Linked DNA regions of Homo sapiens. The protein of the gene in region 1 purifies or fractionates together with the protein of each later gene. This does not show direct contact. Each region holds a gene or a part of one and is shown in the gene's direction. Other genes may lie near its edges.

What was found.
Region 2: the proteins of TBC1D16 (region 1) and TTLL6 purify together in Homo sapiens (affinity purification with mass spectrometry; one large-scale study listed by BioGRID and IntAct). This does not show direct contact.

Annotation. Positions count from the first base shown.
Region 1 is NC_000017.11:79,952,116-79,955,930, reverse strand, and holds part of TBC1D16 (TBC1 domain family member 16), read left to right. Parts: intron 1-3,112; coding exon 3,113-3,274; intron 3,275-3,815. UniProt on the Homo sapiens protein: May act as a GTPase-activating protein for Rab family protein(s).
Region 2 is NC_000017.11:48,764,915-48,768,729, reverse strand, and holds part of TTLL6 (tubulin polyglutamylase TTLL6), read left to right. Parts: intron 1-2,882; exon of another isoform or gene 2,883-3,176; intron 3,177-3,815. UniProt on the Homo sapiens protein: Polyglutamylase which modifies both tubulin and non-tubulin proteins, generating alpha-linked polyglutamate side chains on the gamma-carboxyl group of specific glutamate residues of target proteins.

The DNA of each region.
Region 1 (3,815 bases):
GGTGGAGAGACAGGTGCTATCCTTGATAAGATGAGCTGTGAAGAATTTGAGGCCCTTTTAAATCTCTATCTCTGTATCTGACATGGCATAGTTTACTGTGGTGGAGGGAGAACCCAGTGTTTGTGTTTGTTTTCCAGTGATAGTGCTGACTTTTTTTCATTACTGCTTTTACATTTGGGTGATCTTCAGAAAATGATAGAAATGAAGAACTGCTACATTTCTTAAAGTTTAGCGTCTTCTAGTTTTATGTGTGAGATCTTTCTAATGTAATAGCATCTTGGGAGTTATCGCCTGCAAAACCCATCCTTTTAGTTCCAATGCATCACATAATTTTATGAACAAGCTAAATTATTTGCAGCATATATGAATATTCTTAAAACTAAATTGCTTTACGTGTGTAGAAAGATAAGCAAAAATAAAACACTGTACATATTTCGTTTTCCCTGTAGTTTATTTTCTTTAAACATTTTTTTCTGTGACTTCAAAATTCCCAGACACTTTACATTTTCACTTCAGGCATGAGTATTAAATGTCTGTGTGTTCTGCGCCAAGCCAGGGCTGGGAGCTGAAGATGAAGAGACACGATGCAACCCCCACCCCACAGCAGCCGGCCTCGAGGGGCACCAGACCTCGTCCTCCATGACCACACAGGGCCTGGGGTACCTGCCAGACGTACCCCAATGAAAGCGAACTGAGGTCTCCATCACCTTCGCTCTAGTTTGAGCTTATGGAACCCCAGCTGTAGGTCCCAAGCACAGTATCTTGAATTAATGAATCAATCCATTAATTAATGCAAATAATTTGCCCCTAAGGGGTTGCGAGAGGGTTTAAGCCAACTCCTGCCTGGAGGCACGTTGCTGGGGGAGGTGTGTGGTGGCCCCTGTGTCCTGGACTCTTGCCTGGTTTGAAATCGGCTCCGGCCCTCCAGGGGACCAGTCTTCTGTGGCCACGGCAGCAGGGAGGGGGCCCTCCATCCGTGACTGCCAAAGCGAGTCTCTGTGTTCTGTCTGGTTTCTGGAAACCTTGGCCTGCCCTGTAGGGTGAGTGGGCCACAGTGTGCTGGGAGGAACAAGCAGGTTTGGGGGATTCTGCTGTTGGGTGTGGTAAGAAGGCTGGGGGAGGAGGCGGGAAAGGATACCACCCTCTGATGGCCCCACTGGGTGGGCCGGGCCAGCAGGCAGCACACGGGGCAGCAGCTCTCACAGTCACAGCAGCCCCGCGGTTCAATGAGCAGATGACAGAAGGGGGCACCCATGGGTGCGGTGGGGCCTCAGACTCGAGACCTGCCCTGTGTTGTGAGCAACGATTCTGAAGCGCAGCTCCCGCAGGGTCCACTTGGGAAGATGTCAGGAGCCCTCGGTCTTCTGGGCCCGTCCGCGGCGCAGCCACGGCAGTTCAGGTGATGGCCCCACATGCCCATCTCTGATCTAGTTTTACCTGACTCAGTTTCCTTGAGAGCCCAGGGGCCCCAGCAGTGGGAGGACCTGTTCGGCTGACTTCCTTAGGCAGGTGGGGAAGAAAGGCCACCTGCCACTCACCAGGCCCAGGGCTATGCCTGACGCAGTAGAGGGCTCTAGAAAGGCCAGTCAGGTTTCTCTGTGTGAAGTTCCCAGTGGGGAGGGATTGTGCTGGAACCCTCCAAAGGAGCTTTATTTACTTAGACCTGGTGCTTCTTGGAGGAGGAAGTGCCTCTGGATTGATTGCCTCTAATAGTTTATGTTCTGAGCTCAAACGGGAAGGCAGGTGCGGTGAATGCGGCTGAGTCTCTGTGGGGTGCTGCAGTTGGGGTCCAGAGCTGAGTCTTGCCTGTACTCCGGTTTTATTTTAGCAGACATTTGCTAGACATTAAATCTCAAGAGAGTGTCAGGCGCGATGGCTCACGCCTGTAATCCCAACACTTTTGGAGGCTGAGGCGGGTGGATCACCTGAGGTCAGGAGGTCAAGACTAGCCTGGTCAACATGGTGAAACCTCGTCTCTACTAAATATATAGAATTAGCTGGTCATGGTGGTGGACGTCTGTAATCTCAGCTACTCAGGAGGCTGAGGCAGGAGAATCGCTTGAACCCGGAAGGCAGAAGTGGCAGTGAGCCGAGATCGCACACTGCACTCCAGCCTGGGTGACAGAGCGAGACTCCGTCTCAAAAAAAGAAAAAAAAAAGAAAAAAGAAAAAAAGAAAAAATCTCAAGAGACAAGATTTAACCTGTGAGGTGGCTGAATCCATATAATAAGATATTTTGCAATTTGGAATGTAACAAACTCATAAAAAATAACAGAATAAATGGGGTTGTACTGCTGAACTGCAGACAGCTGCACAGTATGCTGGTGAGAACATGGGCCACAAAGCTTGGGTTCTAATCTCAGCTCTACCACTTGCCAGCTGTGTGACCTTGGGCAAATTACTTAACCTCTCTGGGCCCCAGTTGCCTCTTCTTTACAATGGGGTAATACCACTATTCATTTCAGAGGATTTTTGTGAAGATTAATTGCAATAAAAGCACCTGAGAAGCATTAGCTCAGGGCCAGGCCCATAGTCAGTGTTTTAATAAATGCTGATGATGTTATTAATAGTACTGAGAACCCAAATGTTTCCTAACCAAAAGCATAAACTGAACCAGTACTTTTCAGGAATACAGTGAGCTGGTTTAAACCACGCGGAAGCCCCATGCTATCTAAAATCATCCCAAAACAACCAGTTTTAGTAAAGCCCAGCCCCACGCTGTAGGGAAACCCAGCCTTGTTATTCTCCTGCCTTCTTTATCCATGGGAAAACGAAGGCTGAGAGAGGCTTGGTGGCTTGGCCAAGGTCACACAGCGAGGAACCCCAGTCAGTGTGACCTTGGCTGTCAGGACGATGATGACTTACTGCCTCTATTGAAGTGGAATGGAATTTGATCATGAAAATGCTTTCCCATCCAAGTGGAAGTAGAACTGTGCAGTGGGGTTCATACATTCATTTATTCACAGGTGTTTACAGGGCATATTCAGCCGTGCCTGTATGTGTGTTTAAGCTTGGTGCGTAGGTTTAAATGACTCCCCCATGACCCCCGTCCCCCTCTGGGTAGTGTGGGCAGGGAGAAGTGTGGCGATCATCACATAACCTGTTCCACCAGCCCCCCGTCCAGCTCCGACGCCGGCCTGCGGTTCCCGGACAGCAACGGCCTCCTGCAGACCCCACGCTGGGACGAGCCGCAGCGGGTGTGCGCCCTGGAGCAGATTTGCGGCGTGTTCCGCGTGGACCTGGGCCACATGCGCTCCCTCCGCCTTTTCTTCAGGTAGGAAGCATCTCTGGGCGCCTCCTGGGAGTTGGCCTGTGTGTGTTTTCCCTGGCAGCCTGGGCTTTGCAGCCGGTGCAGTGCACGGCTTGGGGACACAGGGCCCTGGATGGAGTCTTCCCAAGCGTCTGCTTTCCTCCCTCGCTGATCTTGTGGGCAGTGATTCCCCACTGCAGCTCCCTGACAGTTCTCAGGCTGGGTGAGCTACCGAACTCACTCCCCTACCTTCAGCGTGATGGTAGCCAGCGGTTGCTTGCAACTCTGGCTTGGGAGAAGAAACCAAACCAGGGCAGAGGGTAGCAGCTGCCGGCGGCTCTGATCGCCGGGGGATGCTCTGGAGCTCGGCCACCTGTGCGGGACGGGCCGCAGCTTTCCGGATGGAGGCTCCCTTCCTTTCGTGATGGGTGGGCGATGCCTAGTTTCCTGCAGTCATTCCCCACACCAGATCCTCCTCCTTATAGTCAGGGCTGCCCAGCCGCAGACATCACCAATGAGAGGCCCGGGCTTAGAAGAAGCCGGCGTGTCCAGAAGCTGGGGGGGT
Region 2 (3,815 bases), about 31 Mb from region 1:
ATCTCTACAAAAAATTTAAAAATTAGCTGGGTGTGGTGGCACATGCCTGTGGTCCCAGCTACTTGAGAGGCTGAGGCGAGAAGATTACTTGATGCAAGGGGTTCAAGACTAGCCTGGGCAACATAGCAAGACCCTGTCTCTACAAACAATTTAAAAATTAGGCCGGGTGCAGTGGCTCATGCCTGTAATCCCAGCACTTTGGGAGGCCGAGGTGGGTGGATCACGAGGTCAGGAAATCGAGACCATTCTGGCTAACACAGTGGAACCCCGTCTCTACTAAAAATACAAAAAATTAGCTGGGCATGGTGGCACCCGCCTGTGGTCCCAGCCACTCGGGAGGCTGAGGCAGGAGAATTGCTTGAACCCGGGAGGGAGAGGTTGCAGTGAGCTGAGATTGTGCCACTGCACTCCAGCCTGGGTGACAGAGTGAGACTCCGTCTCAAAAAAATAATAATAATAATTAAAAAATTAGCTGGGTGTGGTGGAGCATGCCTATGGTCCTAGCTACTTGGGAGGCCAAGGTAGGAGGATTGATTGAGCCCAGAGCTGAAGGTTGCAGTGAGTCGGGATTGCACCACTGCACTCCAGCCTGGGTGACAGAGCAGCACTCTGTCTCCAAAAAAAAAAGTGACCCCCTTGCTATGTATTAATATATTTCTGGTAGAACTGATCTGCCCCCACTAGGCACTTTGCCTTGTCTTCCACTTATGGCTAAAATTGAGATAGTCATATATGGAGATCCCAGAAGTAGAACCATGTCAACCATAATGGGTTGATTTTCACATCCTTCAAGCTATGCCGCCTGGTCTAGGCCTAGATCACTTGCCCCAAAGGCTGGCCCTGTAATGGAGTGTGCTGAGGGGACAGAGCAACAGGACAGCAGAGACTGAGATGTGGAACCAAAGGCCTTTGAGAAGCTTTGGTTCCACCGTGCAAAAGGCCCCAGGAGATGGTAAGATGCCCTCCGTCTGAACTTCAGTGCTTCTGAGGGAAGGTCATATGTAAAAACTTCGGAGAACTCCACAACATAGAGCTGTGGAATTAAGGGATCTTTGCTGCTTGACTGTCTAAAGAAGAAGGCTAGAGATGTGAATCGTCTCCCTCCACCCTGCCACGCAAAGCTTACTGTGAGCAGATACTCTGACCTGGCCCCTTGTGACCAGTAGCTCACACTGCAGGAGGGCCTGCAAGGAAACATCCAGCCCATAGAGATCACCTTGGGTTCCTGTAAAAATGCATATTCCAGGGCCTTCTCCCAGAAATTCTGATTCAGTGGTCCTGGGTGGAGAGCCCAGGAATCTGCATTTTATGAAGCTCCTCTAGTTGATTCTGATAGTCCTCTCACCATGCTCAGAGAAGAGCTGGGCCTGATGTTTCCCCATTTCCCTGATGATGGGAATCATATGAGGGCCCTTGTTTAAGCCTGTAGTTTCTCAGGCCAAACCCCCTGGGAATTCTGGCATAAGAGGGCTGGGAAGGGGCCCTGGGAATTTGTCTTTTGAACAAGTCTTTTAAATATGGGTAATAGGTCAGGCACGGTGGCTCATGCCTGTAATCCCAGCACTTTGGGAGGCCGAGGTGGGCAGATCACTAGGTCAGGAGTTTGAGAACAGCCTAGCCAATATGGTGAAACCCCATCTCTACTAAAAATACAAAAAGTAGCCGGGCATGATGGCACGTGCCTGTAGTCCCAGCTACAGTTGTGGTGAGCCGAGATCACGCCACTGCGCTCCTGCCTGGGAGACAGAGCGAGACTCCATCTCAAAAACACAAAACAAAACAAAACAAAACAAAACAACAACAACAAAAACATACGGGTAATAAGTACTTGTCTTACATGTAGACCCAGGCCTGGGCAGAGGAGCCTGTTACAGCCAGCCCTGACCTGTGGGCCTGTTATTGGAGCAAAACTCTGATCCCTAAGGAGCTCCAACCCACTACCACTATCTTCAATTCTTGTGCCTCAGCCTCTTGAGTAGCTGGGGCTAAAGGCATGTGCCTCCATGCCCGGACAATTTTTGTATTTCTAGTAGATATAGGGTTTTGCCATGTTGGACAAGTTGTTCTCGAAATCCTGGCCTCAAGCAATTCACCCACCTCGGCCTCCCAAAATGCTAGGATTACAGATATGAGCCACCACACCCAGTCTGTTTCTACTATTTAAAAAAGGATGATGTAGCACATTACAATGAAAACTTGTATTCAGTAGGACTGTTAAATGAAATAATAATGATCAGAAGCCACACGAAGAAAGGGAAGAGATCATTATATGAAGAGGGTGTGATAAAGTGCTTCCTGCATTGACCGTTGAATTTAGCTCTGAACCTCTTAGCAGAAAAGGCCAGGCACAGCATCCTGTTTTGGTCCTTTTTGTCTGTCCAATCATACTAGAGAGTCTCTAGTGGCATGGACTATGTCTCTGCCATCAGATGGGGGTCTCCCTGAAGACAGGAACTTTATTCCTTCCCTCAAGATTGGGGGCTCCTCAAAGATTGGGACTGGTTCTGTTGGTTTCTCTCCCCACCCCCAAGCTCCAGGTACATCCCTGTGTACACTGGCCCTCACCCGCTTGGAGCTGTAGTGAGCTGGGAAACAGGGAGAACTTCCCCATCAGTTGAATCTTGGTGAATACCTCTGACATCAGATGCTGATTCTTCGTGTCACTTTTTAGCAACGTGGGCTAGATTCCCCAAGAAGCTCTGGTATTTTTTAGGCAGACAGGGTTTCAATATTTTCTCCTAGATGAGTAAAAATAAGTTTAGTAGTTCCTTAGGGAAGACTTCTTTCCCTGAAAGAGCAGTTTATCATGTGGCATCTTAGATCTTTTCTGCCATAATAAGCAATGGCTGAGGGCATGGCCATGTGTTAGTATTAGTCATGGTGCTGGGCATGGTGGCGAGTGCCTGTGGTCCCAGCTACTGGGGAGGCTGAGGCAGAAGGATTGCTTGAGTCCAGGAGTTCTGGGCTGTAATGCGCTACCCTGATCAAGTATCTGCACTAAGTTTGGCATCAGTATGGTGGCCTCCCAGGAGCTGGGGACCACCAGGTTGCCTAAGGAGGGGTAAACCAAGACAGAAATGGAGCAGGTCAAAACTCCCATGCTCATCAATAGTGGGATCACGCTGGTGAATATCCACTGCTCTCCAGCCTAGGCAACATAGCAAGACCCCATCTCTAAAAAAAGAAAAAATCAGGATGATAGATGGTGATAGTTACCCTTTTTTGCTAGCCGACTATAAAGGCGCCAGCACTCTTCTAGATAAATATTTTATCTAATTGAATTTCAATCACAGTTGTACACTTTATTTTTATTTTCTTTGGAGACAGTCTTGTTCTGTTGTCCAGGCTGGAGTGCAGTGGTAGGATCATGGCTCACTATAATCTCAAACTCCAGGGCTCAAACGATCCTCCTGCCTCAGCCTCCCATGTAGCTAGGACTACAGGTGCACATCATGATGTCCAGCTAATTTAAAAAGTATTTTTGTAGCACAGGGTCTCCCATGTTGCCCAGGCTCATCTTGAACTCCTGCCCTCAAACAATCCTCTTGCTTCAGCTTCCCAAAGCTCTGGGATTACAGACGTGAGTCATTGCACTTGGCCTTGAGCTTTAGAAAAGAAAAAAAAGCTGATACTCAAAGAGCATAAGGCTTAACATTCAGCAGGTCCCCCAGTTTTAATTGTCACAGCAAGGATTTGAGTCAGATGCTTCTGATTCTCAAGCCCCAAACTCTTGAAGCCATACTATCTGTCTGTTAAATGATACTTTTCATATTAGTCTTTAGTTAGAGCTGAGGTGACAATAAGTGGCTCTTCAG